Regions from separate parts of the Homo sapiens genome. Here all the other regions are linked to region 1. The links come from fine-mapping of genetic effects on gene expression. A gene starts in region 1. Each other region holds a variant in brackets. All regions are shown on one strand. Distances are between the middles of the regions.

Region 1 (10,370 bases):
CAGGATCTTTGTCAATATCTAAAGCTCTAATATTGCATCAGCTATAACACTATGAACTGTTACCATTGGTTACTTTTTCAGTTGTTTATATCTGTATTACCAACTAAATCTCTTAAATTTGGGCCTGTGCTAGCACTCGACAAAGATTTGTTAAATGGATGCTTGTATTAATGGAAAAGTGAATGAATGTTGCATGCTGACGCTAATGACAATGATGTACATGGATGATGCGGTAGCTCAGAGAAACAGCTTGAGGCCAATTGTGGGAGTAAGAACAAGAGAGGCCTTCTAGGAGAAGTGATGCTTGAGAAATAGTATGCCACAGCCTCGCTCCAACCTCTCAATATAGAGGACCAAATGTATTATTTGGCAAATGCACCCGTTCTTTTCAAATGTACCCACCATTTAGAAGCAATAGGAGTCCTAGTAAAGGTGACACCGTGGAGCTGTCCCTCCTTGATGCTTCGGTCATTCAGTAAGCTATGTAATTTAAATTTACCCTCTAAATGAACAAATTGCCTAGAAATTTTCCAGGCATCACCTGATGTTTCAGATGGGTGCTGAAGTAGAAAAGAAGTCTGATAACATAAGACAGAGAGAAGGGGATACTTAGGGAAGGGAAACAAGAGTCTGTGCAAGGGCACAGCAACATGCAACCATGTGAGTAATTTGGGGAATCACACTTAGCTCAGCAAGGGTGGAGTAGAGGAAGTGGTGGAGGCAGCAGGCAAGAGCTAGATTGTGAAGTGCTATGTGTACTAAACAAAGAAGTTTGGATTTTATACTGCAAGGTATGTTTAAATGCCCAGATCAATCATCCCACAAGAAAAACAACAACGAGGAATACTGAAAGTGCTTTCATAAATGTTTAAGCATCAGTTGGCTCTCAGTGGCTCTGACTCTTCTGGTTCAATAGAAGCTGACTCAGCAGGTAGGGTAACTCATTCACAACCAAGCATCCAAAAACAAGGACCCGGAAGGGGTGGGTCTCAAGAGGCTCTGGGAACACAGCAGAAGTTAGGAAGAAACTGTTTTGTTATTCTCATTCTCTTCCTGTTTGAAAGTACAGATCTACTGGCAACTTTGGGTGCCTTTTGCTCCCTTTTATATAAAAGTAGAAAATCCCAATGATCTGATGTAGTATAGCTGAGCATGCCCATTCTCATTCCCAATATCCACACTGTGTTTCTAACATATGTGTGTGCCCCACCCACCTCTGGGACCTTTTTGCTTGACTTTTTCTCTTGGCTTCCACTTCAGTCAGGGAGAATAGGGATAGGAAAAGAAAGAAATAAGGTCCTGGAAAAGCCAGTTCCTTGGGACTCCCTAATTCCTTGAAATTCTACTTGTCTCCATCTTTCCAAATAGGAAGGGTCCCTGAGCCCTTTTGTAGGAAGGAAATACATTTAATTATTTCTTTAAATCCTTGAAAACATGGGGTGCCCGCATATGTGCACACACGTGTTTGTATGTGCTTGTTGGGAATATTGCCAAGACTAAAGGTTTTAAGTGGACTAGGAAGGGGATGCCAATGCTAGCTGAGTCCTCCTCTCCAATGGAGAACTTGGCAGTGAAATGGGTGTGGTGATGACAACCCTTTAGGAGATCTGTGGGGCATGGTTCTGATTATTCCCACCTACTGGCTAAGGAGTCATCCCTTGGGCTTATCGAGGACTTGAGCAGCCTTTTCTCTATATAAGTTGCTGTCTAGGTGACTAAATGCCCCACTCACACCAGAATCCCTGCCAAATGTGACAGGGACTAGGAGGAGTCATATATCTCCCACATGGCTGTATCTTGGGCTTCAACGCACCATTCTCTCCTCCCTTTGAGTAATGTGGGGAATGTTAATGTGACTTACATTGAGCACATGGTAAGCCAAGTTTTACTTCAGCTTATCTTAAGAAAGAAAACACAGAATGCGGAGGTCCAACCTGCCAAGCGTTCTTGTTTTTAAAATACGATTCTTGGGGGAGAAAGAGTAGGAGATGAGGTAGTATTATAGTATGTATTATCATCAGCTACAGATAATATTTTCAATGTGCATGAAGAACATGGCAGTTACAATATCCTCTTTCATGAGCCACAGCCTTACTCCAACCTCTCAATATAGAGGATCAAATGTATTCTTTGGCAAAATGATGAATGATTATGTCTCAAGAAACTTTGGGATCAGTTATGAATCACAGAATCCTGTTAGAGAATGCTAAAGAGTCTACTGCATGATAGAATATTACTAATTCAGAGTTCTTACAACTTGAATTCTGTTCATTTAGCCAGGAGTGAAGGAGAAGCCAGCCATCTATAAGAAAAAAACAAACTGCTAACCCAACAGGACAGTGTGAAGCTTTAACTTTGAAGAATAAATTTTTCAGAGACTTAATAAGTCCTAATTTCTATTAGTTTGCAACTCTGCTTCCAAGTTCTCCACATTACTAAACCCTATTTACTAACTTGTGTGATAAGACTTTGTTCTGACAGCATTATATATCTTGCTTAAAGCTTCCATGTAACGCTAAAAGTTATAAAATTGCATTTAAAAAAGTTTAATTCAGATTTAGAAATGAATGCAGACTTTTAGAAACTAATGCCCATCAAATTACTTCAAACTGATTAGGCTTAGATATTTTTAAAATATCTAATCAGAAATTAGAAGATACAGCTGTGGGTTCTCAAGCCCTTAAATGGGTTTAAACTGATGTCTGTATTAAAGCTACAAGCTTCTTAAGTTGCTTAGTCCTTTACCAAATGTTTATTTAGGGTGCTTTAGAAATTCTTCTGAATAGCATCCTCAACCAGATGATTGCTTTAGCTGGTCTTTTTAGCTCTGGTCTTTAGGTCCAGGATTCCCTAATATTATAATTTTCCAGAATCACGTAAGTCCAGGTCAGGGACGATGCTGACTATAGTGTCTGTACTATCATTTACTTCTCAGGACCATTGATTCATGGAATTATGGAGGGTGGAGGCAAAGGAGGGGGAAAGGAAAAGGAAAAGGAAAATGAATCATGCTAATTTCTCATCTATCTGGCAGACAAGATTTCCCTGATCAGTCTGCAACAGGACCACTGTTTGAGAGAATGATTTAACTCCTATAGCAAACAAGTGCTGGGAGGGAAAACCTAATCCTTAGGTCATATATTCTCTATTGTACAAATTGTGACTCCAGCAGAAGGCAGCTTTCAAGAACTGAGTGGAGGGATGGCTGTGTGTGTATGCTCTTAAGACAGGCCCCAAAGAAAAGCCTGAGGGGGAAACAACCCTCCTGTCCATTAAGGGTCTTTCCTGAGGCATTCGCAGCCTGCCCTGACTCATCCGCATTAATAAAACAACAAATGATGCAAAACTGTGATGCTTTAAAATTAGGTTGGTGGATTTACATTCATTTCTCAACTCACATGATAATGGAGTAATTCCTTAGAAGACAAATAATTATTGTTACCATCTGTATAAACCCTGGGTAAGCCTGTGCTATACCTGTTTAAGTTTACTTAAACATAAACACTCATCTAAGGTATAAACAGATGTAATGAAAACATTCATAATCCCACACCTGGAAAGGTAACTAATGAGTTACATGATTTTAAATTCTCTCTCACCCTTATAAATGAATCACCTTATCCTTGCAGAGCTGCCTGGAAGACTCACACCTTAAAAATGGAATGAAGATTTTCAAATCTCACCCTTTTACCTAAGTCTGGATGAAGAAAATTTAGGTCTATAACGTTTCATTTCTAGGAATAAACTTTTGCTGAATAAAGATTCCTGGTATACATAAATTATCTTTTAAGGTTTCCAACCAAGTGTTTCCGTGCATCATTTCACCTAACTGGCAGGGAAGAATGGAAAATGAAGGTAAGAAAATATTTTTTCACCATGCTTAGTAATACAGAAACTATTCCTTTTCCAGCTTTGGGTATCTGATTCATAAATAGGTTACACAGTCCACCCTCCATCACTCAATATGAGCCACTGTCTGAAAATATTTATACTTTTTGAGGATGCTGCCACTTCATAGGCCCTTGGTGGTGGGACTTTGCATAATTAACAGATATGCAAACAACAATCTCTTTGGAGACTGGATGCAGTGACTACTGTCTCCTGCACGGCACCTTAGTCTTGAAAACTGCAACAACACAGGTCTCCTCAAGAGGGCCACTGTTTGAGAGAATGATTTAACTCCTATAGCAAACAAGTGCTGGGAGGGAAAACCTAATCCTTAGGTCATGTATTCTCTATTGTACAAATTGTGAATTCCTGCAGCCGCTATAAACAGTAATGACAGAAAGAAACGGCAGGAAAGTTTGCAAAGATACAGGTTTTGGACACCATTTGGAGAGATGACAAAGGGTCTTCCATGGAATCAGTGGTCAGTGATATGGAACGGTGAAATCATGCTAAATCCTAAAGCAAATGCTTAAGAATGAACCAAGCTCTGTGAATACTCTGCAGTCGGGCTTGTTCTCGTTTTCCTGAATCACAGACCCTATTAAGGCAAAACAGACCTAATCACATAATCGTTTAAGAATTACAGTCTTGTACAGGAAACTACAAGGCACTTACAAGTCCAAGCAACCCTAAACACAATCTTGTGGTCAAATGAAGTTTAGCCTCTTCTCTATCGGATTTCAGGTAAACTAAATTGAGCCTGGGACAAACCTGGCAGAACAAGAACAGAGTGCAAAAAAACCTGCTAATATTGAGAACATGAGAAACAAATTCCCTGGAGTCTGTGGGAGTTAGGCATGAATAATGCCTGGTGGATGAAATCCTAAGGGATCTATGAGAAGAGTTACTGGGAGAACCTGAGACTATTAACCATTGCAGACTGGGGACAAAAATGTTCTCAGATGCATTAATGGACACTTATGCTACAACCAGAAAATGCATCCATGTTAACCATCCAGCTGAATAAGTCGTCAGTGTTACAAAAATGAGATCCATATTAGGCACCTTGGAAAAAGGCTTCCTTCCCAGTTCAGGCACAGGAAAGGACAAGTTACCGCTTGACTTTATTTAACTAGGAAAACTGCAAGTGAAACAACCTTTTCGTACGCAGATGGGGTGCAAACACTTTCACAAATAAACATAGTGGCTTCTGGGGGCATTTTCTAAGTTCCTTCTCCCCACTTCACCTCCAATCCACTCCTGACAGACTTCATGGTAGGCACGGTTATAAACCTGTCACAAATACTCGCATGCACAAGTAGGATCTTGAAACAACATGCAATAAATATCCTGATACTACTTTGACATAGGGCTTTTGACCACAGCTGACCTCATCTATAAATTCAATTCTTTCTCACATGACCATGTGATGAGGATTCTGGCACTGGCCTACCTGTTCCTAAGGAGTGCACAGGGAGCCCTCAAATTTAGTTTCAGGAGCTGAGAGAAGCAAGCCCTATTCCAATACCTACACTGAGCTGCTTAATTCTTACTGGTGTCACCCAGTGGGCAGTAAAACAAACAGGATTTTTATCAGCTGCTTTCTCCTGAGGTGCTGGAAAGCAAACCTAATTTGTATTCTGGAGAGGAGTGGTGGTGTTCCTTCATCTGAACAAGTCTTCTCCCGCTCCTTTTAAAACTTTAAAACTTTTATTTAAAAGTTAACTCGTGATGAATGCCTACAGGCAGAAGAACTATTTGCTTACAACAACTGTTGTTAGTTCAGACTGTAGTGTCTAGGGTTAGCACCCCCGGAACGCACACGGACAACCACTCCGGAGAAAAGATTCTATTTCCCAGCCTGTATTTGCTGCACTTTTGCACTTCTCTTGCTTGCTTAGGTGTGTTCACAATCACATGCCCAGGGTTAAAACTTAATATTCAGAACTTGATGGAATCCGGTATATGCAAAACTCAAGGAAAAGAAGTAGTGGTGGTGGTGTGTTGGGGGGGTGCATGGGGGTGTAGCCATCGCCCCCGCCGAAGGACAGCTTGCCGAGAGCCGGCTCTCTCTGCTTCCCAACCAACATCCTGCACCCAAGACAGCAGGATCTTCTTTCCCCATCCGTTTCATGGGTGACACTGCATGAATCCAAATGACCTGCAGCCCCCGCCGTCTCCCCAGAGCTCCTTCAGGCCCCCAGCCCGTGTCCTGGAACCCCGAGGACTGCCCTGGCGAAGTCCTGCGGTGCCTCCGGCAGCCCGCAGTTACCCTACCCCGCGCATACCCGGCCCTTTGTCCCGCTCCTCCCGGCGCCTCGCCTCTCCCGCGCCCGGGCGGATGCCCCAGTCGGTGCCCGCACTCACCCGCGCCGAGCAGCCCGCCCGGGCCGCGGCTCGCTGCGCCGCTCAGACAGGTGTGGGCGCCGGGAGAGAGCGCGCGGCTCCCATGCCTGCCCCGCCGCACAGCCGAGTGCGAGCAAGCTGGCGAGCAGCGCAGGCAGCTGGCGGGTCCGCCCCCCGCGCCACCCGAGGCCCGCCCGCCCCGCCTCCGGCCTCGGGGAAGCCGCGCGGACGCCGCCCGCCCCACTGCACATAAACCGTGCCCCCCTCCCCTCGCCGCTCGCCTGCGGCCGGAGCAGGGTGGAGCAGCCCAGAGGGCCTGAGGCCGAGCGTCCCTGCGCAGGTGGGCCCCGGTGGCGCGGCAGCAGTCGCCAGTCCGGGCCTCTCGGCGCCAGGCAGCACCGGCTCTGGCGGGCTCTCCTGCCCGGGACCCGCGCGCCGTCACCCTTTGAACACCGCGCATCCCCGGGTCTGGCGCGCGGCCTCCTGAGCGAGACTACGGCCTTCGCTGCTGGGAGCACGCTGCCAGCTCGCAAAAAGACCAGGTCCCCTACAAAAGGCGACCCCTCCCCCAACAGCCTAGAACTAGGGACGCGGGCCACACCTGGTGTATGGGGAGCCCTGGGCAAATTTGAAGAATTGGTTCAGAACCTGTGTGCGCCCCACCCCCACGTACACTTTTAGCGCCTTAAGGTGCTGACCGAACTCCTAGTTTCTCCGGTGCCTCCAAAGAACAGAAACCTGTATTCCCATGGCAGGGCCACCAATGCTTTGCATTTCCTTACAGCACTCAGTGCTGTGCGTGGGGCCCAAAGCACCGGGGGTGCTTGGCAGCTTCTGAGCGGCGGTGGCTGGGGAGCCCACTGGCCTCAGTTCTTCATCGGGGCACCAGCTGGTGGAGCCACCTCCTTGTCCAGTGGGCCTACTTCCCTGAATCACTCCAAGCGGTCGTTATCTTGGTGGTGGTGGTTGGGGGCCAGGGTAGGGGGGTGTGCGGGGAGTCCTCTCCTAACCAGGCTGGAGACCTTGCCATTTAAGGTCCTAGTGTTAGAGCCTTCCTATTTAGTATAGATTACTGTGTATTGAGCGTTTTCGGTCAAGAGCTTTACATATAGGCCATTGTGGTGAAGAAGGTGCAGAGATTACACTAATTTTTATAAGGAACAGGAGGTTTGGAGAGGTTTTATGACTTGCCCAAAATCACACAGCTACTGAATGGTAGGACAAGATTTTGCACTGAGCCATGCTTTCTATCAAGCTACTTAGCTTTCCTTTCTCCTATCAAAGTCTACTCTCAGAAAGGGAAGGTCTAAAGTGCTATTTCACACCAAGGTGTTACTGATATGCCTAATACGTTGGTGTTTGCAATTACTTTTACATGAGAAAGCCCTGAACACATTATTGTGTGGTCTTTTCTTTTATTTTATTTTCAAGACAAGTACTCCCTCTGTAGCTCATTCTGGAGTGCAGTAGCAGGATCATAGCTCACTGCAGCGTAGACCTCCTGGGCTCAAGTATCCTCCCTTCTCAGCAAGTATTACACGCGTGAGTCACTGCTCCCGGCCTGGTATTTCTTAAATAGAAAGGAAACTGATATTTTCCACCATTTTAAGGGCAAATTTTTCTTAGCTTAGCTTCAATTGTTTTCTTTTAAAATGTCACATTAATATATAGAGACATAGGCCAGGCTCAGTGGCTCACGCCTGTAATCGTAGCACTTTGGAAGACCAAAGTGGGCAGATTGCTTGAACTTAGGAGTTTGAGACCAGCCTGGGCAACATGGCAAAACCCCATCTCTATAAAAAATACAAAAAACCTAGCCAGTTGTGGTGGCACACGCCTGTGGTCTCAGCTATTTGGGAGGCTGAGGTGGGAGGATGGCTTGAGCCCAGGAGGTGGAGGTTGCAATGAGCTATGATCACCACTGCACTCCAACCTGGGTGACAGACCAAGACCCTGTCTCAAAACACACACAGACACAAAACCAGATATAAACTTATGTTACAGCTTTTGAACAACTCGCAAATAAAACCAAAACAGATTTATAAAAATTTTCTTCCAGAATAATAAAATTGAAATTAGTAACGTTTCCTGGACTACTATCAGCATTGCATGGTACTGACAGCTGAGGCGTCAGTACCTTTGACTTCCCTGTGGCTCTGCCACTCTCATGATGTGTGAGGTGCCCAATGCAGACTCAATTCTCTCACCTCTTTCCTTCGTTCCATCTACCATATCTCCTTTGCCCACACCATATGTCATTGCAATGGGTTTCTCTTGACTCTAATACATTATTTAGGTATTTGTGCTGTTTCTCTCTTATTAGCATAGCAAGTGAAGTGGTAACTCTTGCTGCCAAAGACTAGTACACACAGGTGCTGCAATCAAGAGGCAGTACTTGGCATGAGATGGTCATCCCAATGATCCAGAATGTGTTTATCTTTTATTATAAAAATTTTAAAGATTAAATTGAGGATCTCTAAGTGTCTGTAGCTCCCAATTGAAGAAACACCATTAAAAGGTAAGTATCTTAATAGAGGAACTGGAGGTGCAGCTGGAAGGAAGGGAAGAAGGGAGAGATTTATCAACCATGCTCAAGTTGTATTAGAGTCACTTCAATCCAACAAATATATATTGAGCACATATTACATGGAAAACATTGCGCTAGGCACAAAATTAAAGAGATGCATATAGGAGGACCATACAGCAACATAATTAAGAGTGGCCTGTGGCATCTGACTATGGGGTACCAATCCAAGGTCTGACGCTTACTAGTTGTGTGGCTTTTCACTTAACTTTTCTGTACCTCAGTTTCCTCCTCTGTAAAACCAGGACTTTCTCATAGAGTTCTTTTAAGAATTGAATGAATATACATAGTGTGCTTAGGAGAGTTTCTTACATGGAACAAGCCCTTAATAAATATTAGGTATTGTTATATTTATCACACTTGGCTCTGCTTCGGAGTGTAGTCCTCCAGTACCACCTCAGTCAGCTTTGACATTCATTGCTCATTTTTTTCCTAGTAGTTGCAATGTTTCAAGTTAGAGTCATGGAGAACAAGATGATTATTCCCATCACTCAGAGAGAAAAACTGAGGCACAGAAGGGCCCAAGAGCACAACAGTCCTTCATCTGGTCTCAGGGACTACCGCCCACTATCCAAAGAGCTAATAGGAAGGACTCTTTAACTACAGATGTCCCACGGGGGCTCAGGGTTTGAACATGCACCACAAGCTTTTGTTGTTCCTCAGAGCTACCAAGAGTAAAATGAGAGGCTACTTCCTGGCTGTTAGGTTGTCATCACGATTGCCATAAGGACGATGATAGAACTGTATTTTGACCTCTGAGACAAATGACCAATGTAAACAGCAGATGTCTTCATGCTAAGATTAGAGGTTTGCTTTTCTTTTTGTACTCGTCCCATTTCCCTCCCCAGTGGGGAGGGGGTCGGGGGAACCAAAACCGAAATCCTCACTGCTTCTTAAGAACTCAGTTCAACTCTATAATTGTAATTCCCGAATACTTTTTATATGCGTAGCAATGGAGTTGTTCAAAATGCATTCAGGGCAAAGCCCACACATTTTCTGATCATCCACTCTGTGTAAGGTTATTTGGGCTGTCAGGGAGAGAAAGCAAATACCCCTCAGCTCGAGGAATGTATGCAATGGACATAAACAAAATCAAATATAGGAGAAAGCAAGATATCAGCTGGATCAGGATACAGACATGAGCTAGAGAACATGGAAGAGGGAATCATTAATTCCCACTCTGGCAGGTGCTGAAAGCTTTGAGGTAGAATTTGAGCTGAAGCTCAAAGCATAAAAATCTGGACATTACCTCACTGTGTTCACAAAACTACTTTGTAACACAGACAAGAAGAAAAATATCCACTGTATAGATGAGAAAATCAATGCATAAATTAAGGGAGCAGAACTAGGACTAAATTGTATCTATGCTTAGTGAATGCATACTATATGCCAGGTACTGTGGAGTATATTTTATTATGTGTAATCTTTTTTTTTTTTTTTTTTTTTTTGAGACGGAGTCTCGCTCTGTCGCCCAGGCTGGAGTGCAGTGGCGCGATCTCGGCTCACTGCAAGCTCCGCCTCCCGGGTTCACGCCATTCTCCTGCCTCAGCCT
Region 2 (10,768 bases), 220 kb after region 1:
TTAGGCCTCTCCATTCAGTAGCCACATTCCAAGGCTCCACTTGAGGCTGCTGTTTTTCCTTCACAGCCTAAGTCCTGAAACAATGGCTCATCCTCCAGCTTGCTGTGTTGCCCTTTCTGCTCTAGTAAGCCAAACGTATTGGGGTTGAAATATGGCGTTTTCTATGGGGTCTCCTTTGACTTAGGAGCCTTGGTAGGACATGAATTTAGTCACCTTGCCATAGTTTCCCCAGTGCATCATCTATATTTGTGTGAGCCTGAGATAGTCCCCACTTACAGTGTGAGAGCCCCAGAAAATTAGTTAAGTAATTAATGTGTGTTAGCAAACAGCTTGTTATATTACTTGTTATATTATTGTTATTACTTGTTGTATTACTTTGACTGAGAGAACTTAAGAACAGAAGGGGACTAATGGGTATTAGAGGTGTATTCTGAACCAGACATTGTTGCCAGGCTTTCTACACTATGATACTGCCAATTAATTGTGAAACTATTTGTCTCTCTCTCCCTCTGGTCTGTAAGCTCCAGGAGGGCAAGACTGTGCCTATCTTGTTCATGCCACAGCTTAGCTCCTAGTACAATGCCTGGCACATAGTAAGGCATACAATTAATATGATGCATAAATACACAAAGGACTTTGTATGATCTTCTGGTGACCTTGTGGAATTAGTATTATTAGCCCATTTTACAGATGAGAAAATTGAGGTTCTAAGAAGTTGAGTAACTTGCTTAAGGCCATACATCCAGACATTAACTGAGACAGTATTAATCCAGGACTTTCAAACAGAACTCTTATTTATATTTGAGCCAGAAGGCACTCATTTTTGGCAGTGGAACAGAAAAAAGAAGGAAATCCTTTATTTTCCATTGTTCTAAAAGTAACTCAATTTGTTCTGTTATCTTTTTAAATGAGAGAGACCGGTTATTCTCCCTTAGTTACAGTAATTTTATGTCCTACCAGTTTTCTCTCTAGCTAGGTGGGGAGGATGCTTGCTCACACAAACCGTGAATGACGGCTTTTTCTACTGTCTTTCTTTTGAAGTGTGATTCTGACTGGAAAAATAAAAACATTTGGAGGAAAGGAGGAAGGTGTGGGCTACAGTAGTCATGAAGGGCTTTACTCCAGGGGCAAGACTCGAGTTAGGCCTCAGGGATGAGTAAAATTTACCCAGAGGGTTGGACATCACAGCAACCATGTGAGCACAGCACGGTGGGGCATGAGGAAAGCGAAGAGACCCACCCATCTGGAACAGTGACAATCACATCTTGCCACTGCTTAAAAGCCCATCCCTAAGCCACAAGGCTCCCCAGCTGGAAACCAAAGCTCTCCTTGACCTGGGCCTGCCTGCATCATGCCTGCCCAGGCCTGATGAAAATGGTCTCAGGGAAAGACCTCCTCCTTTACCACTGGTCCTCTGGGATTCTGCAGAGCAGCCATGCTGAAGCAAACTGCACTGGCCTCAAGCCAAATGCCTCCTGGGCCTCCGCATCTTTGTGCCTGCTGATTCTTCTACCTGGATGCTTTTCTCCTCCTCTGCCCATCAGCAGAACTTCTACTTGATCTCAGCTCAACTAAGACCTCCTTTACAAAACCTTACCATCTACCTCCTTTGTAACCCTAAGCATTAGTCCCATTCTTCACACTCCTGACTCATTCTTTATTTTCATCTATTTCTCTGACAGACTTTCAGATCTGCACATCCTTGCCACTTCCATTCTCCACCCCATTTTACTTGGCTTTCAGGAACACGTTTCCCTTATATCTTCAGTTCTTTTCACAAGTTCTATCCAACTCTGTCTATCAACTAAAACCTACCCTTACCCTGAGTGACTGCTTCATCCAAACCCCTCTCATATGGAGGTTGCTTATTATTTCACTCTTCGGCTCCCAAGTCAGGACACAGCTAGGTATCCTTTCTTTCCCTAAAACCATTTTCAGAGCTGTTTTCCCCCATCCTTTTATTTAAAAAAACAGCTACCACCACAACAAAATCTGTTTCTCTGCTCCTATTTGAAGAGTTGGGCCATTTAGAGATATTGAACTTTTGTCCTTTTCATCACTGTCATTTACCACCTTTCAATTATTGAGGACTTTGGCACCAGCTTATAGACCTTCTCCACCCAGTCTTGCCATAACCCTGGGTGACTTCAGCATCAATATGTTGGCTTCTCCAACACCCTAGTCTTGGCTAACTGGAATACCTGTCCTCAGCTTCTCCCAGAGTCACACCCTGGACCTCGGCATCTTGTGAAATTCCACCATGTCAGAAATCAGTGATTCTAACAACACACTGTCAACCAGAGATGCTGCCGGGTCAGCTGTCCCCTCGGACCCCACCACAGTCTCCAATCCTACTCAGTTCTCCACTTCACATTTTTCCATTCACTTTTTCCAGCCATTGCTCCTACCCACTAACCTAATCCAACCCAGCTTGGGTTCCACAGGCAATCATTCCCACTTTTCCTGACAACACCATAAACTGTTTGCCCCTATACCTGGAAGTGAGGATTCCATCCCATCAGCATTTAAACATGCTCAAATATCTCCACCTTAAACCACCCCCTTTAGTAGCCAAGCTTTTTGAAAAAGTTTTGTGCATTTGCTGTTTCCATTTTGTCACAACTTTCCTCAAACCACTCCAGTATAACTCCATCAACTCTTCACTGGGTTACGAAGAACCTCCACTTTTCCAAATCCAGTAGATCGTTTTCAGTCATCCTAATGATTTGACCTTTCAGAGAAACTCAGCAGTGTTGGTCACGCCTTCCTTCCTGAAACACATCCTCCTTTGTCACCTGGTGACAACCCATCTTGTGGTTCTCCTTCTTTCTTTCCGCTGTCCCATCTCAGTCTCCTCCTTTATCCAGCCTTAAAAAGCTGGAGCTTCTCAAAGCTCAAGCCAGGCTCTGTTTTTGCTCTAAGCTCTCTCCATAGAGTAATACATACAACCCCATTATCGTTTCAATTGCCATCTTTTTGCTCATCATTTTCAACTTAATTCTTTACCCTCTAAGACCCAGACTTATAGATATGGAACTGTCCACTAACACCTCCAGATAAATGTCTCAAAGGAAAACTCAATGTATATAAAGTAAAACTTGAGATGAGCTCCTCTCCTTCCACTCCCACCCAAAACCAGTCCTGGTCTTCATCATTAGTGTCCCATTTCAGTGAACACCACAACCATTCATCCAGTTGTGATGGCAGTGATCCTTGACCCCTCTCTCTCACTCAACCCCCAAATCTCATCTATCACCAGATCCTGTGCATTTTTTCTCCCCCATGTATCTCTTATCCTCCTGCTTCTCTCCAGCTGCATTCCACCATCCTAGCACAAGCTACCATTGCCTCTTAACTGGACCATTGCAGGAAACTTCTAATTTATCAGCACATTCTTGGACCCTTCCAAAAATTCTCCTCACTGCAGCCAAAATGATCTTTTCTAAAGAACACAGATTTAATTATGCCTCTTCTGTTTAAAACTTTCAGTAGTTTCTCATTGCCCTGAAGCTGAAAACCTAAGTCCTCAGCAAAGTCACCTACACACTGCACAGTCTTGGTCCTGTCTGTGCACCTTCCCTTTTCCAAGCCTTGAACGTGGTGTTTCTTTGCCTAGAAAGCTGCTCAACACCACCCCTACCCCGAGCACCACCACTTGGCCTAATTAACTCTTTTTTGTTGTTATGTTTGAAGATGTATTATTAGTCTTTATCACAGTTTTTTTCACTGTGGTGAGAACATTTGCCATGAGCTCTACCCTCTTAACACATTTTTAAGTGTATAATATGGTATTGTTATCTGCAGACACAATGTTATATAGCAGATCTCTAGAACTTCATTTTTCATAACTGAAATCGTATACCCATTGATTAGAAACTTCCCATTTCCTCCTACCTCTAATCCCTGGAAACCACCATTTTATTATTTGCTTCTATGAGTAGGATTATTTTAGATACCTCATGTAAGTGGAATCAGGCAGTATTTGTCCTTCTGTGACTGGCTCATTGTGTTTAGCATAATGTCCTCAAGATTCATCCATATTGTTGTATATTGCAGGCATTCCATATTTTTAAGGCTGAATAATATTCCATTTTATGTATATGCCCTTTTATCCTCCATTTATCTGTCAAGGGACATTTAGATCCTTTCTACATCTTGGCTATTGTGAATAGTGCTAATACCTCTTTGAGATTTTGATTTTAATTATTCTGGGTAAATACTCAGAAGTGGCATTGCTGGATCATATGGTAGTTCCATTTTTAAATTTTCAAGGAACCTCCATACTGTTTTCCATGGTGGTTACACCATTTTACACTCCCATCAGCAGTGTACAAGGGTTCCATTTTTTCCATAGCCTCACCAATACTTGTTACCTTTTGTTTTTTTGATAATATCCACTCTAACAGAGGTGAGGTAATAACACATTGTGGTTTTAATTTGCATTTCCCTAATGATTAGTGATGTTGAGCATCTTTTCATATACCTGTTGGATATTTGTGTCTTTTCTGGGAACATGTCTATTCAGGTCCTTAGCCCATTTTACAATCAGGTTATTGGAGGGGGTTGCCATTGAGTTGTAAGAGTTCCTTATATATTTTGGAAATTAACTCCTTATCAAATATATGATTTCCAAATACTTTTTCCCATTCTGTAGGTTGCCTTTTCACTCTGTGGATTGTTTTCTTTGCTGTGCAGAGGCATTTTAGTTTGATACAGTCCCACTTGTTTATTTTTACTGTTTTTGCCTGTGCTTTTGATATTGTATCTATAAAATCATTGCCAAGTCCAATGTCATAAAGTTTTTCCCCTATGTTTTCTTCTAGGAGTTTTATAGTTTCAGGTCTTACATTTTACATCTGTAATCCATTTTTCAATATAAGATAAGGGTTAATTTCATTATTTTACATGTGGATATACAGTTTTCTCAATACCATTGTTGAAGACAATTAACTCTTTATTTATCTGTCATATCTCATTTTGGATATTGCTTCCTCAGGGAAGTCTCTTCTAATCACATACCATTCCCAACACAAAGAAAATGACATCAGGACTCCTGGGGTTCCTTATGTCCTTTAACAGCATCCACTGCACCTGCTTTGTAGTATTTCTTCGAATGAATTAATTAATTGGGTGATTATTTATTTAATAGCTGTCTTTACTATTAGAAAATGAACCTTTGTTTTTCCCAGCTAACAACCACTGCCAGACATACTTCATTATACAAAGTAGATGCCCTACAAATTTTTGAGGAATGAATAGCATCACTTTATTTGATAACCATTTTCGTTTGAATGACAAATCACTACATCTTGTATTCGGTTGGTGCAAAAGTAATTGCAGTTTTTGCTTTTAATGGCAAAACCCACAATTACTTTTGCATCAACCTAATATCTGCTGTGTCAACTCCCCCAGTGGAATGTGAGATTTAGGCTTCATCATCTTTCTTTCCACGTATACCTAGCACTATGTATATCACACAGTCTGTGCTCATTAAATGAAAGAGGGAATGAATGAATGAATGAATGATTAGGCTGAGTAAACAGGGTGGGTCTGGTGGTGGACAGCTCAAAAGAGACAGCATAACCCTTTCTAAGATCCTTATCTGTAAGCCTTGGGTTATCT[G/A]GTTTGCATAAACTTTCAGCCATAAAAATGCTTCGGAAATTTGTTCCCTATAAAAAGCCAGCCTCTGATCTTGGTTTCTCACCAAGTTTTAACTGCCACTAACGCCCAGATACTTAACTTGAAGCTTCTGTTCTGTCTTCTTTTTTTTTTTTTCCTTACCATGGATAATACAGAGAAAGCCTTTTGTTTCAGACTCGGTGGAAACAACTGGGCCTCTGTGTTGTGTGCAGGTGAGGCAACTGATTTTCTCTAGTTATAAACTTACCCAGTAGCAGGACTCCCGTGGGGTTTTCTTCTAGGGGGAAAGAGATCTCACTACAACAGTGTCGGACCAGTGCTATCATTGTGCTTTAGCAGTATGCAGTTTTTATATTTTAAGGCACTAACATTAATAGATAATTACATTAAGTAGCAGTATTTTTCCTTCTTGTCATTGCTGCTCATTTAAAAAGTCCTATCTTTACTAATAAGTCAGCACTTATCCACTCTCCTTAGGAAATGCTCCAAATTGAATTTCTATTGAGATATTTCCCAAGGACAAGGTTGTCACCTCTACTTCTGAATGTGTGTTAAGGATTAGCATTTGTACAGGACTTTTATCTTTCTTCTGGTGCAGTTTCTCATAATCACCAGGGGTGCAGGTAAAAAGCCCTGGAATCAACATTTACAGGTAGGGGCCAAGGACTTGAATTTTAACCCACCAGCTAAGGTGCTTCTGATGCACACTGAATTTTTAATTTTAAATGTAAGTTTCAATCAATGTCTTCTTCATCCTCTAATCCACTATACTGATTAGTAGATGGGCACAGAAGGTCATTCCCAACAGAGGAACTACCACATGCACACAAAGAGGTATGAAAATGCCTGCTTCTTCTGGGAATGGTATAGTTTGCTCTATTAAAGGCCACCCATGGAAGAGTGGCTGGTGGCAAAGCCAAAAATGATGCACAGCTTATGAAGAGCCTTGCAGGCTTTGCTAAAGATGTTTTAAGTTAGCAAGAAAATTATCAGATTTGGTTTTTGGAAAATGACAGTCTGGCAGAAGTTCTAAAAGGTGTATTCCAGGGGCAGAACAGTAGGAGTGAAGACTAGAATTCAGGAGTTGCAGGATTTTAGTTTAATAGCAGACAAGGTGTGATTTCAATATTGGAAAGAACAGGGATTATAAGGAGGATGGATAACAGAGGAGGAAATTAGAACTATTCAGGAGATAGAAAATCACTGAACTTATTAATGACTTGACTGCATATATAGGTTGAGTGGTGAGGAATCCAGGGTGACTCTCCAGTTTTTACTGGGTTACTGGGTAGCTGGTGGTACCATTGCTGAGTAGGGAATGCAGGAAGATGAGCTTGGTTTGGGGCATGTGGTGTTTGACATGCCTCTGAGACATGTATGTGGGGATAGCCAGCAAGCAGATGAATGTATGCATCTGGAATTAAAATGATTCTGGGGACATAATGCAAAGCATTGCTCTTGCTTGCCATCAACTTTTTACCCAAACTGCTTCACTTAAAATGCAATAGTTGACATTAATTTAGTGAGTCCTTTCTAAGCATCAGGCACTCTGTTGCACACTTTACACACATTATGAGTTATTTTTTTCCTAGGGGAGAAAACTGAAACTTGAAAGGTTAAAATATACCTAGGCCATGCAGCTAGTAAGGGTCAGAGTTGACATTCAAACTTTGGCAGTCTGATCCATCACTCATAATCATTATCCTATGCTACAGTATTCCTCAAAATGTTTAAATCACAACCTATCGTTAAAAGTACACTTTATACCACAAGCTAGTACACATACATACCAATTACACATGGATGCATGTGTATACACACACATACACACACAAGCAAAAGTTTAGCAAAACAGTACTTTTATTAAATGTGAGGCAACCTGCTATTTTCTACTGAAATCTATATATTTTTTTAGATGTTGGTTTCTCCTTACTATTTCACGGCCAGAGTTGGATTGAATTTGACAAACCCTGCTGTATTTTATTCCCCTGGGGAGAATATTTCACTTCAATTCCCAGACTTTGTCATTCCTGCCTTTTGGAAGAGAACACTTAAATGTTGTTGTATGCTTCCCCCTTTTCCTCTAGAGAAGGTATCCAAGGTTAAAAGCTGGGATATTGTGGGATAAGGCCGACCAGGAAACACCTACTTTGGTAGACTGATCAAACCTTGTCTCTAATGTGGCTGACAAAGGTGATTGCAAAATGTCCAAAATCACAACAAAGAATGCAATGCTTAAAATTTGTGCAAAAAAATGATTATTTTGCACAAATGGACTGCAGTGGCCAGTATGGATGGCAGTGGCCAGCAGCACACAGACCTGTGTTTACATTCCAGCTCTGCTACTTATTAACTGTATAATCTTGGGTAGGTTTTCTATTTCGTAGGGATGTGGCAGAAGGACAAAACTGAAATAGTGCCTTAGTTCATTCTATACCTACCACAAGAGTATTTGATATTAAGACTGAAGTAGTGTTAATATCTTTATTAATTTAAGTTATAAAATACAGACCCACAAACTGAGCATTCATCTATAAAAGCAAATTAAAATTTCCATACTATTCAATGATGACCCAATCAATCATTCAGTCATGTATTTAGTCAATCAGCATTAATTTAGAACAAGCTATTACCTACTGGTAATTAAAAAGAGACTTTAAATATTAACTTTACTTACCAGAAGATACAGGTTTTAGAAAAGCCTGGTAGCCAAATGGCACTAAATGTAGTCTCAGGCATGCCATCATTTATTTTGAGGCATTTGGAGGAGAGGTCACTCTGCAGGTCTCTGTGAACATCAACATCGCTTCCTTCAGGGTCGACAATGTCAATCTAGAACAGCAGAGCCACACTTGCAGGAATTCCAGTGACCTTTCCGGAAATCAAGAATGGAAAGGAACAATTTGACAAGGTGCATGTAGCCCCTAAACATATAGATTCTCGAGCTAATCATGTTTATGAAATGAGAAAATATTTTTAAAGATTCTCAAATTCATAAGTGCAAGAATTAGATTCTATCTCAGAAAGGGACAAAGAAAACAACTCAATGTTGATTGTATCAGCTAAGCACTGGAAAGAAGGAAAACTCAAAAGGTTTGAAGTTCCAAGGTTCCATATTTTCTTTTCACTTTCTTTTAATATAAGTCTAATAAAAAATGGGAATGCCATTCAAACAGCATTCCCAATAGCTGAACTTCTAACTTGGAATCCATTGACCTTTGAGTTTCTCTATTAATTTTAGATCTGCATTAGGTCACTATCACCAGTTAAAATTTATCAACCACCTATCCTTAAATTCCAAATAAGTGGTACCCAAACTGTAATTATTAAGGAAAATGAATAGAATGGATTGAGGATAGAGATTAAAGGAGGAGGAATAAACAGGGCAGGAAATTCTAAGGACATTCCTAGGCTGCTGTGCCTCTCAGAAACACCAGGTTCATGAATCGGTTGTTCTCCACAGTACTCAGCATCTGGTAATGGCCTGGTCACAGCTGTGTTTAGTGAGAGCCTCAGATGTTCCAGCCAGTAGCTAGACACATGACACTCAGGGAGCTTGGCTATTATGATCTTCAGTCCCCCACTGAGGACACTGAGAACAGAGAGAGAACTTTAGAAAGTTCCCTGTGATCACATGGCCAGTTGGAGCAGAGACATTATTTGAAGCCAGGAACACCAACTCCAAGGCCTGATCTCCCTTCTCTGTGGCCCACTGCCTCTCATGGGCAAGTTTGGACCTGCACACCTGAGCTCTAGTAAATGTACCACTTGTGCTATTCTGCTGAGCATTGAGTCTGCTGGGCACGAAACCAGCCTACATAATTTGAAATTAATTCTGAAATATGAAAGGGTATAAAGAATACCGGTTCAAATGAAAAGATCATTAGACTGAAACTCAGTGAAGGCAGGGGCTATATATATTTAGTCTCTTAATGTATATCTAATGCCTAGTACAGAGCTGGTACTCAAAACATACTTGTTAAATGAATAATTCATTTAATATGAATGAATTAATGAGCCAACAAGGTGAAATAGAACTCAAAATTCAAGTCTCATTTCTAGAACTTGCTAGAGCCATGATTTTAGGCAAATCATTGAACTCTCTCAGCCTCAACTTTCCTATCTGCAAAATGGGAATGACACTTTGACAGCCTACCACATAGGGCAGTGGTTCTAATGAGTAGCAAAGTTTCAGAACTACTATCATAGCAAATAAAACTGCTTTGTAGACCCTAACAAAGCAGTGAAGTGTAAACAGTTGTTACAAATTCAGTCCAAAATGGCCTCTGGATTTTGGAACTCCTGCTTCTTGGTGTCAAGACAGAGAGGGTGACTGATCGCTGTGATCTCCTGTGCACCACAATGGTCCACTTTCTTCAGGACAAAATGACTTCCTTCCTGGTTCACCTGATAAGGTGGCAGAGTTGAGACTGAAGCCCAGGAGAATGAGGATTTGGTTCATATTAGGGCTGGAACAGGTTAACAGCCATCTGTTGGACACTTGCCCTGTCAGATGAGCTTGTCCTTGGTTGTCTCGTGTCCAGTTCTGGCACCCCGCCCACTTATTCGCACGCACCAGGAATGCATGTACAGTGCCTATTCTGAGACCCTCCCAAAGTGTGTCTGTTTGTTTTCTTCCTTCTGGTCACAGTTCATCTTTTGACCCAGTCCTCCCAAGCTGAGTCCATCAAAGTGCTGTTGTGTTGCTGGAGGAAAGAGGCTACTTCCCTTGTTCTCTGCTGCTCCCCTGCCTGTAACCTTCCTCTGCTATTACTTTGTTGCAGTCCAGCTGACTCAGAGGGCCATTAGGGTGCCAAGAACAGTATTATTTAAATTTTAAATAATAGTCTCTTGGGAAGAGAGGGTCATGAAACATTCAGAATAACACAGGGAATTTTGCCAAGAGAGTGATTCATAATCTTTCCAACTATCCACCTCTGTTCCCTTGTTCGGTCGGGATGGACAAAATCCTAAAGTCACCAAGTATTTCAGGAGCAGATATGAAATTTCTCTTGAAAAGAAATGGAATCTCTTCCACGCTGGTTCTTATCCAACAACTTCGCAAAAACTAATCTTTCAATAGCAAAACAATTGAAATAGCCATTATTCTCAAATGTTGTTGTATGGC
Region 3 (10,768 bases), 630 kb before region 1:
GGGGAGTGAGGTGAGCAGGAGCTGAGTGGAGTTAGGGAAGCGAAAACTTACAACGAAGGATAAGTCAGTCAGTGTGTTTCTACAGGGAATAAAGAGCACCAGTTGAAGAACACAAAGAACAATCAGTTAGTTAAGCAAAGGTCTGTGGAAGAGCTTCTACTGTACTTGCAGATTCCGCAATGCACCATCTTCCTCTTGATCTGGGGCTTTGTGTACTGCTTTCTTTCTCTTCTCTCCACCTCTCCCTTTTTTCCAGGCCAATACTTATTTTTCTTCATGACTCATTTGGGGAGCATTTGCATCTACCCTATTTACCGCATCTGTTTTATTTATGTGTGATCAGGCCAGCCGTGTCTGCTAGCTGGCAATTACCAAAGTTAGGATTCCATCCTCCCACAGAAATTGGAAGACAGAGGCCCCGTCCTTAGATGTTGGCTGAAACAAACAGTACATTTTTTTTGGCAGCCTTAAGTTTTCTTCGGCAGGCACTTTGAGCTGTTAGTAATGATGTTAGTGTTTGTTCAAGTCTGTATAGAACAAGGTTGAGGCCTAGTGGAGAAGAGAGCTCAAAGGAGCCTGGCTAGAGTTTGGTCAAAGACAGAGTCTTTGTCACTAGTCCGTCTGCTCACCTTGTGTCCCGGAATTGAGTGGTATAACACACAACAAAGACTGAGAGCTAAGGGAGCTTGATCATTGTCACTCGAACCTGTTGTTTTGCAGACAAGGAAGCTCCTCCTTCCTATTACTTGGTGAACCCTTATCCGACCTTTACATCTCAGTGTAGACATTGCCACTTCCTTCAGAATGCCTTCCTTGACTCCCACCAAATTAGGATGGAATCTCCTGGTGTGCATGCCCATAGTGCCTGAACCTCCCTAATTTTCTACATTTTGTCTGCATGCTGACCTCGCCATTAGATTTGAAGTTTCCAAGAACGGTACTGTTAGTCCTGCTCACAGCTGCAGCCCCAGCACTTAGGACAGCAGCTGCCACTTGAAAGGCACCCAGGGAACACTAGCTGCATGACTTGGCAGCAACTGGCTCAAGTCACCCAGGGAAACTGGCACTTAGGACTCAGTGGGTGAGGTTGAGTCACAGCCTACCTTTCTATCCAATGGAAGGGCTCCTGGCTCCCTCTGCCACAGTGACAAAGTCCTAACAGGACCCTCTGTCTGTCCAGAGATCCCAAGGTGTCCCACACAGGCCTTTCTTAGGGTGACAGTCCTGTCCCCAGGTCTCTATCCCCAGCATCCCCAAGGTCCATATCTCACAATCTCAAGAATCCAAGAAACAAATGTGTGGAGGGCTCCAATAACTGATAACAAAAATGTTGCCATCCAGGAATATTTCCATGAAGAAAGAAAAGTTGTAGAGATATGATATGGTATTTTCATCAATCTCTATGCTCAGTTCTTCAGTGTTTACTGTCATGCATGGCCTTGACCACTTTAAAGTTATTTTGTAGACTGTTCATGTTTGCCTGAGGTTTCCTCATTATTGTATTTAGAACATACTTTCTTTTTTTCACGAATACCAGAGAAATGATGTCTGTCCTTCTCAGTGGATCATTTCAGGAAATACACAATGTTGGCAATTGTTTAACTTGTTATGCTTATCATGATGTATATGTTTTCACTTCTTTTCACCCAGGGCAGGATGACAGGCTTCTCCCACGGGGCAGCTCCAGCACAGCACCGTGGCTGCCCAAAGCAGGGCAATGAACAGGACCATGCAGCCCTGTGAATACTTGGTGGGAAAGAGGCCAGTACTGTCTGCCTTAAGTGCAGGTCACCAGAAAGGTGGTACTGGCATTATGAATCTGCTGTGCCTACGTAAGTCAGTCTTGATAAGAAACCTAAGGGCTAGCTAGATGAGGAAATGGTGTTCAACTGTCACACACTATACCTGAGGATGTCAAAGGCAGAGACCCAGATTGGGGTGGTTGAAGTTGAGTAGAAAGCAGTGATAGAGAGCCAAGCGTGGGGGTGGGTAACTGTAACCTCAGCTACTCAGAAGGTTGTCGCGGAAGGATCACTTGAAGCCCAGGAGTTTGTGTTCAGCCTGGACAACATAATGAGACTCTGTCTCTAAAAATAAATAAATGTATTTTTATTTAAAAAGAGAAAGTAGTAACTGATTTATGCACTTGACAAAGAGGGCACCCTTAGGTAAGGAGATGTTTTTAGATTTCACTTCACATTCACGAAAGCCTTTTTTCAGAGGCAAATTTCATGAACAAGGATAAATCACCTTCCATATCCTTGCTACGAATAGGAAAAGAATTTTTTCCATTTTAAGGAAATGTATGATTTTAATTAAAATGAGAAGATTTGAGTGAGTTGCTAAGAAACAAGACCCTATCTGTAGCCATAGGAGCTTATACCATTAACATCTGGCTATAGATGGGTTTCCTTGGAAACAATTCCTAGGCATTCTTAAGCGTTAACACTGAGCAAGAATAAAGCCTTCTTAATAGGTGGAGACGAGGACCATAAAAAAAGATTTCTAATTGAGCAAATTGACCAACTATAAAAGCAAGCTATGCCAGCAAAAAATGATACTCAAATACAATAACCTCTTTTCAATCTGTTTTCTGCTCTGTTCTATTCTGTTCTCTTAGATAAAAGTAGTACATTTTCATGGGGAAAGAATTCAGATAGTGAGGAAGAGAATGAAGTTAAACATAGAGTTGTCCTTTTCTTCCTCCACCCTTCTGATTATTCCTCAGAATTAGCTACTATTAACTGCTTCATAGATGTCCTTTGAGACATTTTCTATGTTGACACAAGCATGTATATAATATCTCTATTTTAAACAAATGAAAAATTGTAAATCTTGTTCACAGACATGCCATTTTTTCCCTCTCTCTCACAATATGTCTTAGAGATCCTTCCATGTCAGGACATAAAGATCTATTTCATTCTCCTTGACACCTAGTTTGGACAAAGTTAAAAGAAAATCTATATAACCCATTCTCTGAATTGGCTTAGAGGGTTTCCATTCTTTGGCTATCACAAAGAAGCCTGCAATGAATATCCCTGTGGATATCTTTGCAGACCTTTTTAGGTCTATCTTTAGGGTAAATTCCTAAAAATAAAAATAGTTAAGTCAAATTTCATATGCATATTTTTATCACTATTGCCAAAATTACCCTCCAAATATATCACACCAATTCATTCTCCCACCATCAGCATAGAAGGCTTCCTATTTCTGGCCCATACTCCCGTCCCTAAGTAACACTGGGTATCATGAAACCTAAAAGTCTTCATCAATCCAGTAGGATAGAATGATATCTCATTTTTACATTTTGCATTTCTTTTATTTGGAAGGACATTACGTGTTTTCTCATGTTTGTCCATTTACATTTCTCTTTTAATTGATTACCTGTTTGTGGCCTTTGCCCACTATACTATTATCTTTTTCTTATTTGTGCCTAAGCACTCTTTGCTTACTAAGGAAATTAGCTGTTTATGAATCTGAATATTTAATTGCTTTTGCTTTTTTTCTTTAAACAAAGATGTCAGTTCTGCCAGTATCACAGGGTTGTCTCAGCCTTGGTTAAGATAATATATATGGGTTTGTCGCAGTGGCTCACACCTGTAATCTCAGCACTTTGAGAGGCCAAAGCCAGTGGATCACTTGAAGCCAGGAGTTCAAGACCAGCCTGGTCAACATGGCAAAACCCCATCTCTACTAAAAATACAACAATTAGCCGGGTGTGGTGGCATGCATCTGTAATCCCAGCTATCCAGGAGGCTGAAGCACGAGAATTGTTTGAAGCTGGGAGGCAGAAGTTTCAGTGAGCCAAGATGGCACCACTGCATTCCTGCCTGAGAAACAGAGTGAGAGTCTGTCTCAAAAAAAAAAAAAAAAAAAAAAAGGTACATATGAAAGTGTCTTTATTGATGCAAAATCCTAACTAATGAACTAATGTATATTGTTTTTTATTACATTCTTATTATCAAAGCAGGAGAGTCTGGTAGAGAAATTATATACTTTGGAATCTGAAGAATCCAGCTCAAATTCTGGCTCTGCCACTATTTGCTGAAGAGAAGAGTGACTTAGTGGCCCTTATTAATAGCCTCCTATATCTGTGCCTTTTCCCCTATAACCCTTAGTCCCCTCCCACTCTGACTCTGGCCTCAGCAATGTGATTTGCATTGACTAATCGGGCAGTAGCAAGCTTGAAGCAGAGACTTGAAAAAGTATTCATGTTTCTGCTTCTTCCATTGCTTCTCTGACATTGCTGTGAGAACATGTTTAAGTCAGCCTGAAAAGACCATGTAGACAGAGCTGCACTACCTCTGCCAAGTCTCCAGCCTTGTGAGACATCCCAGCAGAGATCAGAAAGCCATTCAGCTACCAATAAACTCATGAGCAGTACCAAGTCACTGATTTAGGGAGTGGGTATTGTCTCATGCGGCAATAGCTAACTGACATTATCTATGAGATTAACCTCATTGCATCTCAGTTTTCAAATTTATGAATGTTGAAGATAATACCACATTTATAGAACTATTTTGGGCAATAAAATAACACTAATACCTGGAATGATAACAGCCCAATCCTTACTATCAGCAAGGAAACTCAACTACAGGTAAGGTTTGGGAATGTCAGCAGTTGTTTCTGCAGCCCCATAATATAAAGCAATTGTTACAGTATATGTTTATCTTTAAGATCATCTGCCAAAATTTCCAGGTCTGCCAAAAATTACTACCCATCCTTACACAAGTCACTTAACCTCTCTGGGTTTCCTACAGCCCCCTCCATCTTCTGCAACTTTCCTATCTGGCACATTTCCTTGGCTCTTAGACTCAATCTGGGTTTGAAAAGGTTTCTCTTCACATGAACACGTATGTTTATTGCAGCACTATTCACAATAGCAAAGACTTGGAACCAACCCACATGTCCATCAATGATAGACTGGATTAAGAAAATGTGGCACACATACACCATGGAATACTATGCAGCCATAAAAAATGATGAGTTCATGTCCTTTGTAGGGACATGGATGAAGCTGGAAACCATCACTCTCAGCCAACTATCACAAAGACAAAAAACCAAACACCGCATGTTCTCATTCATAGGTGGGAATTGAACAATGAGAACACTTGGACACAGGAAGGGGAACATCACACACTGGGGCCTGTCGTGCAGTGGGGGGAGGGGGGAGAGATAGCATTAGGAGATACACCTAATGTAAATGACGAGTTAATGGGTGCAGCACACCAACATGGCACATGTATACATATGTAACTAACCTGCACGTTGTGCACACGTACCCTAGAACTTAAAGTATAATAAAAATATATATATATATATTTCTTAAAAAGTTTGTCTTTATCTCTTTGTTGAGAAACCCGAGTGCCCCCAGCCCAGCCCTTCCATCTCAGGCATCCCTCAATCCCTCAACCTTATATCAGAGTAATATTTCTAAAATGCAAGTTTACTTTTGCAGTTGACTGCTTCGGCTTCAGTGGCTTCCTCTAGCCTTAAGGAAGAAATCCACTCTCTAATGCAGGGAACCCAAGTCCCCTTCAACCTCTCTGGCCTCTTCCCTCACCACCTGTGCCAACTTGCATATCATCACACAGCTCCCAAGGTGTGCCTGCTCAAGGTCTCTGCTGTTTTCTCTGCATTAGAGTAAGCTTCCCATTACCAACTCTCCATTTTGTGTGTCTGGTCAGTTTCAACCCCTAGGAAGACTTTCCTATCCCCAGGCTTCTCAGTCTCATCACTATTGACATTTGGGGCCAGATAATTCTTTGTTGTGGGGTGCTTTTCTGTGCATATAGGATATTTGGCAGCATCCCTCACTGGCCTCTACCCACTAGATTCTAGAAGCACCCTTCCCAACTTTTAACAACCAAAAATGTCTCCAGACTTTACCAAATACCTCCGCAGGGCAAAATCACCCCCAGTTGAAAACAAATGCCATAATTCCGTTCCCACATGCACCCCCAAAAGCAGATTCAATGTTCTTAGACATCCTAGGCCTAACTCTACTCAAACATTTATGATGCTGTATGGTCAACATCTGATCCCAGCCTGTCTTTCCCACTAGACTGACTATCTGAGGACAAAAATTGTGCCTTTGGTCCCTATATGCCTAGGTCTCTGCTCACTTTCTAGAACAGGGAAAGTTCCCAATGAATATTTGTTAAAGGGGTGTGTGTGTGTGTGTGTGTGTGTGTGTGT[A/GTGTA]CATAATAGCAATGTAGAAATGGGGAACTGATGTTCCCAAATCTATCTGCACATTACAATCATCAGAGATATTTTTAACATACAAATTCCTAGATATGTGCCTAAACTCCTGAATAAGGATCTCAGGGAGCAGGAACCCAGGAATGTTTACTGTTTAAACTGCTGGGTGATTGTAATGCAGCCAGCCCACAGAAACAACAATCCTTAACAATGACCCATGAGACAACCATTCATAGACAAAATAGTGGCAACCAACCTTCACCATCTTTGCAGACCATCTGACAATGCCCACTTCCATCACTGCAAAAAAATGTGAAATATTCCTCCAAAGAAATCCTTCTGCCCCCAAAGTGCAAATTGGTTGTTTCAAAAGGTGAGTAAGGAAGTACTCAAGAAGCCTCCAGAAAAGGCTCGGAGAGCCTCTCCATATAGTCAGAGGGACCCTCCCACAAGAGTGACTGTGGCATTTATGAAAATATTCCTTTGTGAAGCAGAGCATTTGAATCTTCCTTGGCTTCCTATTCCCATGGCCTCCCCATGGCCAGAAGAGCCCTGTTCCTCCATAGAACACAGATGGCTCCCTTCTCAGGTGGCCTGCTCATTCTCAGTAGTCTGTCTTTTCAACAGAACTCAGAGGAATTCTGAGGTGGTAGACGTAGAACGTCTGCCTGCCCCCGAAGGAAGCAAATGAGGGCCTGGGCTACTTATTTCAAACATGTGCACCATCCAATGCAATGCTTACTATACATTTAAGGCTAGTAGAGTTGGATCTGGTGAAAATCTCTCTGTAACAGGGCTGTAGAGTTCAGTCCTGAAAGAATGACTCATGGCCAGAAATTCATGAGGAGTCAGGACAGTGAGAGTGGAACTGGATGAGAAAGTTGACAGGCTTGCAGAGAACATCCTCATTCCCTCTGCCCTGACAGGCTGGTAAATACATGTTAACAGCATAAGACACTATCAGTGATGGAGCCGGCATGAGGTCCTCTCCCTCCCACTGGCGGAAACCAGCCATCTCTGGAATCTTTAACGATGTCCAAATCATTAAATCCAGTCCAAATCAAGTCCAAATCAAGGCACCAGCAGGCTTGGTTCCTTCTGAGGGTTCTGAGGGAAGGATCTGTTAAGGCCTCTCTCCTTGGCTGTAAATGGTCACCTTCTCCCTATGTCTCATCACATGATCTTCCCTCTATATATGTCTGGTCCAAATTTTCCCCTTTCTAGAAGGATGCCATCATATTGGATTAGGGCCCATTCTAATGATCTCATTTTAATGTGATTACCTATGAAAAGACCCTATCTCCCTTAAGCTCACATTCTGAGGTACTGAAGGTTAGGGCTTCAACATATGAATTGGGGTGGGGGGCTCATTCTAACCCATAGCAATGCCTGACACTTCTGTCCCGCTCTGTCAGTTTCTCCACACTTCTCCACCTCCTGAGTATGCCCGACTGACTTTCTCTTTACCCCTTCTCCAGACTCCTCAACAGTTTTTGCAGAGACTGTGTGTCTCAACCTTCCAAACAAACTGTGATAAACTGGCAGGATCATGAGCTCTTGGAGAAAACAGACCTGGGTTTAAATCTGGATTCTAAGCTCTACTAGCTATGTGCCTAGGACAAGTTACTTCATCCCTCTGAGCCCGTTTTCTCATTTTATGGTAAAGATGTGCTTGGTGAGCCACATATTTAAAATGTTGCCAGTTACTTCTGTATCCAGTGAGAGGCAGGAGTCGCCAAAGAGCAAATTCTGATGTTGTTGGGAAAATAATCACTTCGGTGGCTCTCTTGAGCTTACCAACAGAAAGTGAGTCCTCACCTAATTCCCTGGAGGAAGGGTGTATGAGCCCTTCTGTGGCTGGTCATAGTCAGGTCCTTCATCATACCACATGGTGTGGTCCCTGAGAGGGAGGCAAACACATTTTCATAGAGCTAGAAAGGATCCTTAGCATAAAAGGCTAAAAATCATCTACTCCCTCCTTTTCAGGTATAAAGCAGTACTTCTCAAACTACCAGTAGGGAATAACATTTTTAAAAAAATTTCAATCGACCACAGACTTATACTTTTGGAAAAGGCAATAAAAATGTATTGTTAAATATTAAAAGGACAAACAAAATGCAAGCCACTATTTTTTCTTCAATTCAACAGATATAAAAATAACTCTGTAAAGTTGCTGTGAAATATTTCTAAATGTTTACCATTAATTGCTAAATGTATCTTTTTATAGGCTAGTAACAAAAAGTTTGTGGACAGGCCCCCAGCCAAGCACTAAATTTGAATTAACACCAGTTTAATGTATAATGAAAGAGTCTTCAACCCAAGGCATCTATCTGTGGGGTGATGGGTGATTGGGGTTAGTGCAATACTAAAATTACAGTATTCAGCTCTGGCATTCAAAATCAGGTTTTTTTTTCCATCTACAGCAAGAAAATAGACTTGAAAGTCAGGCCCTCCTTCCTAAGAGGAGGAATGAGTAGCTCCCGTTGTCTCTTTCCACCTTCGAAATACCAAGATGCAAGCATGGAAGATGAGATCACAATTTTGCTTTACGTACGGAGTAAGGAGAAGGTAGCCCACCTTTCAGCTTGGTGTGTACATTATTATTAATATTGAATAGCAGACTATTCATCAAAGTAACATCTCTCTTGTTTAATGATTAACAACTTAAAAAGTGTTTTTACGTCTATGATGTACGTTTATGTCTCATTTACCCTAAAGTCATACTTTTGTCCCCATTTTACAGATGAAAAACAGAAGCAACAATAGAATCAAGGCATTCTCACCATTCCCAAGCTTGGAGGGAAGGTGAGATGTTTTCCACAGTCTGTAATGGGAGTATCTTTGTCCCGATTACGTCTGGGAACAGAGTACGTCTGGGAACAGAGTAAGGAAGTAAATGGTGGAGTAGGAGAAACCTTGCATCTTAGTCGGAAGTCATCATTTGTTATCATCATCTTCACCAACATCATTCACCAGCATCTCTTTGGCCCTATTATTTCTAGGATCCTGTGGCAGGCAAATGGAGGACATCAGGAGATAAGGCAAGGTCCCTGCCATCAAGGACCTGACAGCCGGCTATGTGATTCTGGGCAAGTCACTAAGCTTGTTTTTACAACTGCAAATTGAGATAATAAAATTATCTCCCTTGGAGTGTTGTTGTGAGGGATTAAACCATAAAATGCACATGAAGTGCTTAGCACAATCCAAGGCCTGCAAAGCCCACAAGACCCAGTAAACATCCCCTAAGTATTTGTAATTAATGCTATATAAATTAGCCAAAAATAGATCTGTTTGCTAATTACAATGACTAACAAGTCATTTTGCATTTAGTCATTTTCCACATGGCTTCATTTGTCCCTGAAATACCTATGTTTTCAGAGACATGTTAAAATCACTAAATAAAGTTAAGAATTTTTTAACTGCTAAAATAAATAACCAAATATCACCTGAAGAGAAGGACTCTAGAGAAACAGCAAGGGCGTATCTCTGGAGTATCTTGATATCACATTTTGTATCCAGCAACAAGCATTTTCAGCACGTTGATAGCAAGCTCTGTTTCCATTCTGTGTTTGACAAATTTTGCTCCAAGGGAGAGATAGCTGCTTCCTGCCTTTCCCAGCTATGGTGGAACCTGGGATAGCCTGCGGGGAAGGAGGAGCTGGGGAATTTGTGACTCAGGGGAAAGTCAATTGAAAAGTCAGGCAGACAAAGCACCAAGGCTGAGAGGAAAAATATACATGGAAAGCTGGAGTTAGAGGGGAGAGTTGTCCAGACTTTCCAAGAGAGACTGGATCTCCATGCCAGGCAGCCAGGAGGCCACTGGAGACAGCTCTGCTGGGAAAACTCCACTGGGCAGCATAACATGACAGAAAACAGGCTCTCCTAGCCAGAGCCCCATGGTGAATGCCTCCAGCACCTCACCCAGGCTCCTCTGGGTTACACAAGGCCCATTTCCTTCCCTTGTGGCAATCTTGGCAGCAGAGAATGGGACAGTCTCCTGAGCCCCTCAGATGATTCTAATATATCCCAGGCTTTCCATCATTGCCCTTACTGAGAATCATTTGCAACACATCAGTAGCGTGAATCATCAGATCAGTCCTTCAAGCAGGGAAACCAACAATTACGCTTGGCCCTGAGTGCTCAGGGAGGAGGACGCAGGTGCCAGGTTGGCATGAAGAGGTGGAGAGACTTCTCCAGGGGGCTCCATCCTGCCCCTACTTCCATTCTCCAGGTAGACAGCATGTGACTCCCCTTGCTTACATCCTCAAGCTTCCCCTCCCCTTGATTTGCTCCTCTCTCAGTACCTTTCTATTCACTGTGGCATAATTCCACCTTGTCAAAGTCAGCAGAGGAAGGCTGATAGAGAGGGCTCTTTTCTGAGCAGCAGGAAACCTGGCTTCTGGCCCTGGCTCTGTAACTAGTTTGTTATGTGTCTTTGGACTGGTCCTTTTCCCTCTCTAGGCTCGAAAAGAGTTGACCAGGGGACCTCTACAATCATCTAGTCTGGCCCTGTAACAGAATCAGACTGGGTTTGTTGAGTTTTTTTATGTGATTGGCTGGCTTTGTGTTT

Evidence for each region.
Region 2: its variant is fine-mapped to the expression of PRSS23 in visceral fat (GTEx, PIP above 0.99).
Region 3: its variant is fine-mapped to the expression of PRSS23 in prefrontal cortex (CommonMind, PIP 0.95).

Annotation. Positions count from the first base shown.
Region 1 is chr11:86,796,537-86,806,906 of GRCh38, reverse strand. PRSS23 (serine protease 23) reads right to left here and starts at 6,365. Exons shown (of 2, transcript NM_007173.6): 1 at 6,256-6,365.
Region 2 is chr11:86,577,917-86,588,684 of GRCh38, reverse strand. The region is part of intron 2 of ME3 (malic enzyme 3); the gene reads left to right. Among named protein-coding and RNA genes, the nearest start is that of ME3, 89 kb to the left of the region's middle. The variant G/A (reference allele first, on the strand shown) is at 5,623.
Region 3 is chr11:87,421,851-87,432,618 of GRCh38, reverse strand. All of the region lies in intron 2 of LOC107984361 (a long non-coding RNA gene), which reads right to left. Among named protein-coding and RNA genes, the nearest start is that of LINC02711, 290 kb to the left of the region's middle. The variant A/GTGTA (reference allele first, on the strand shown) is at 6,199.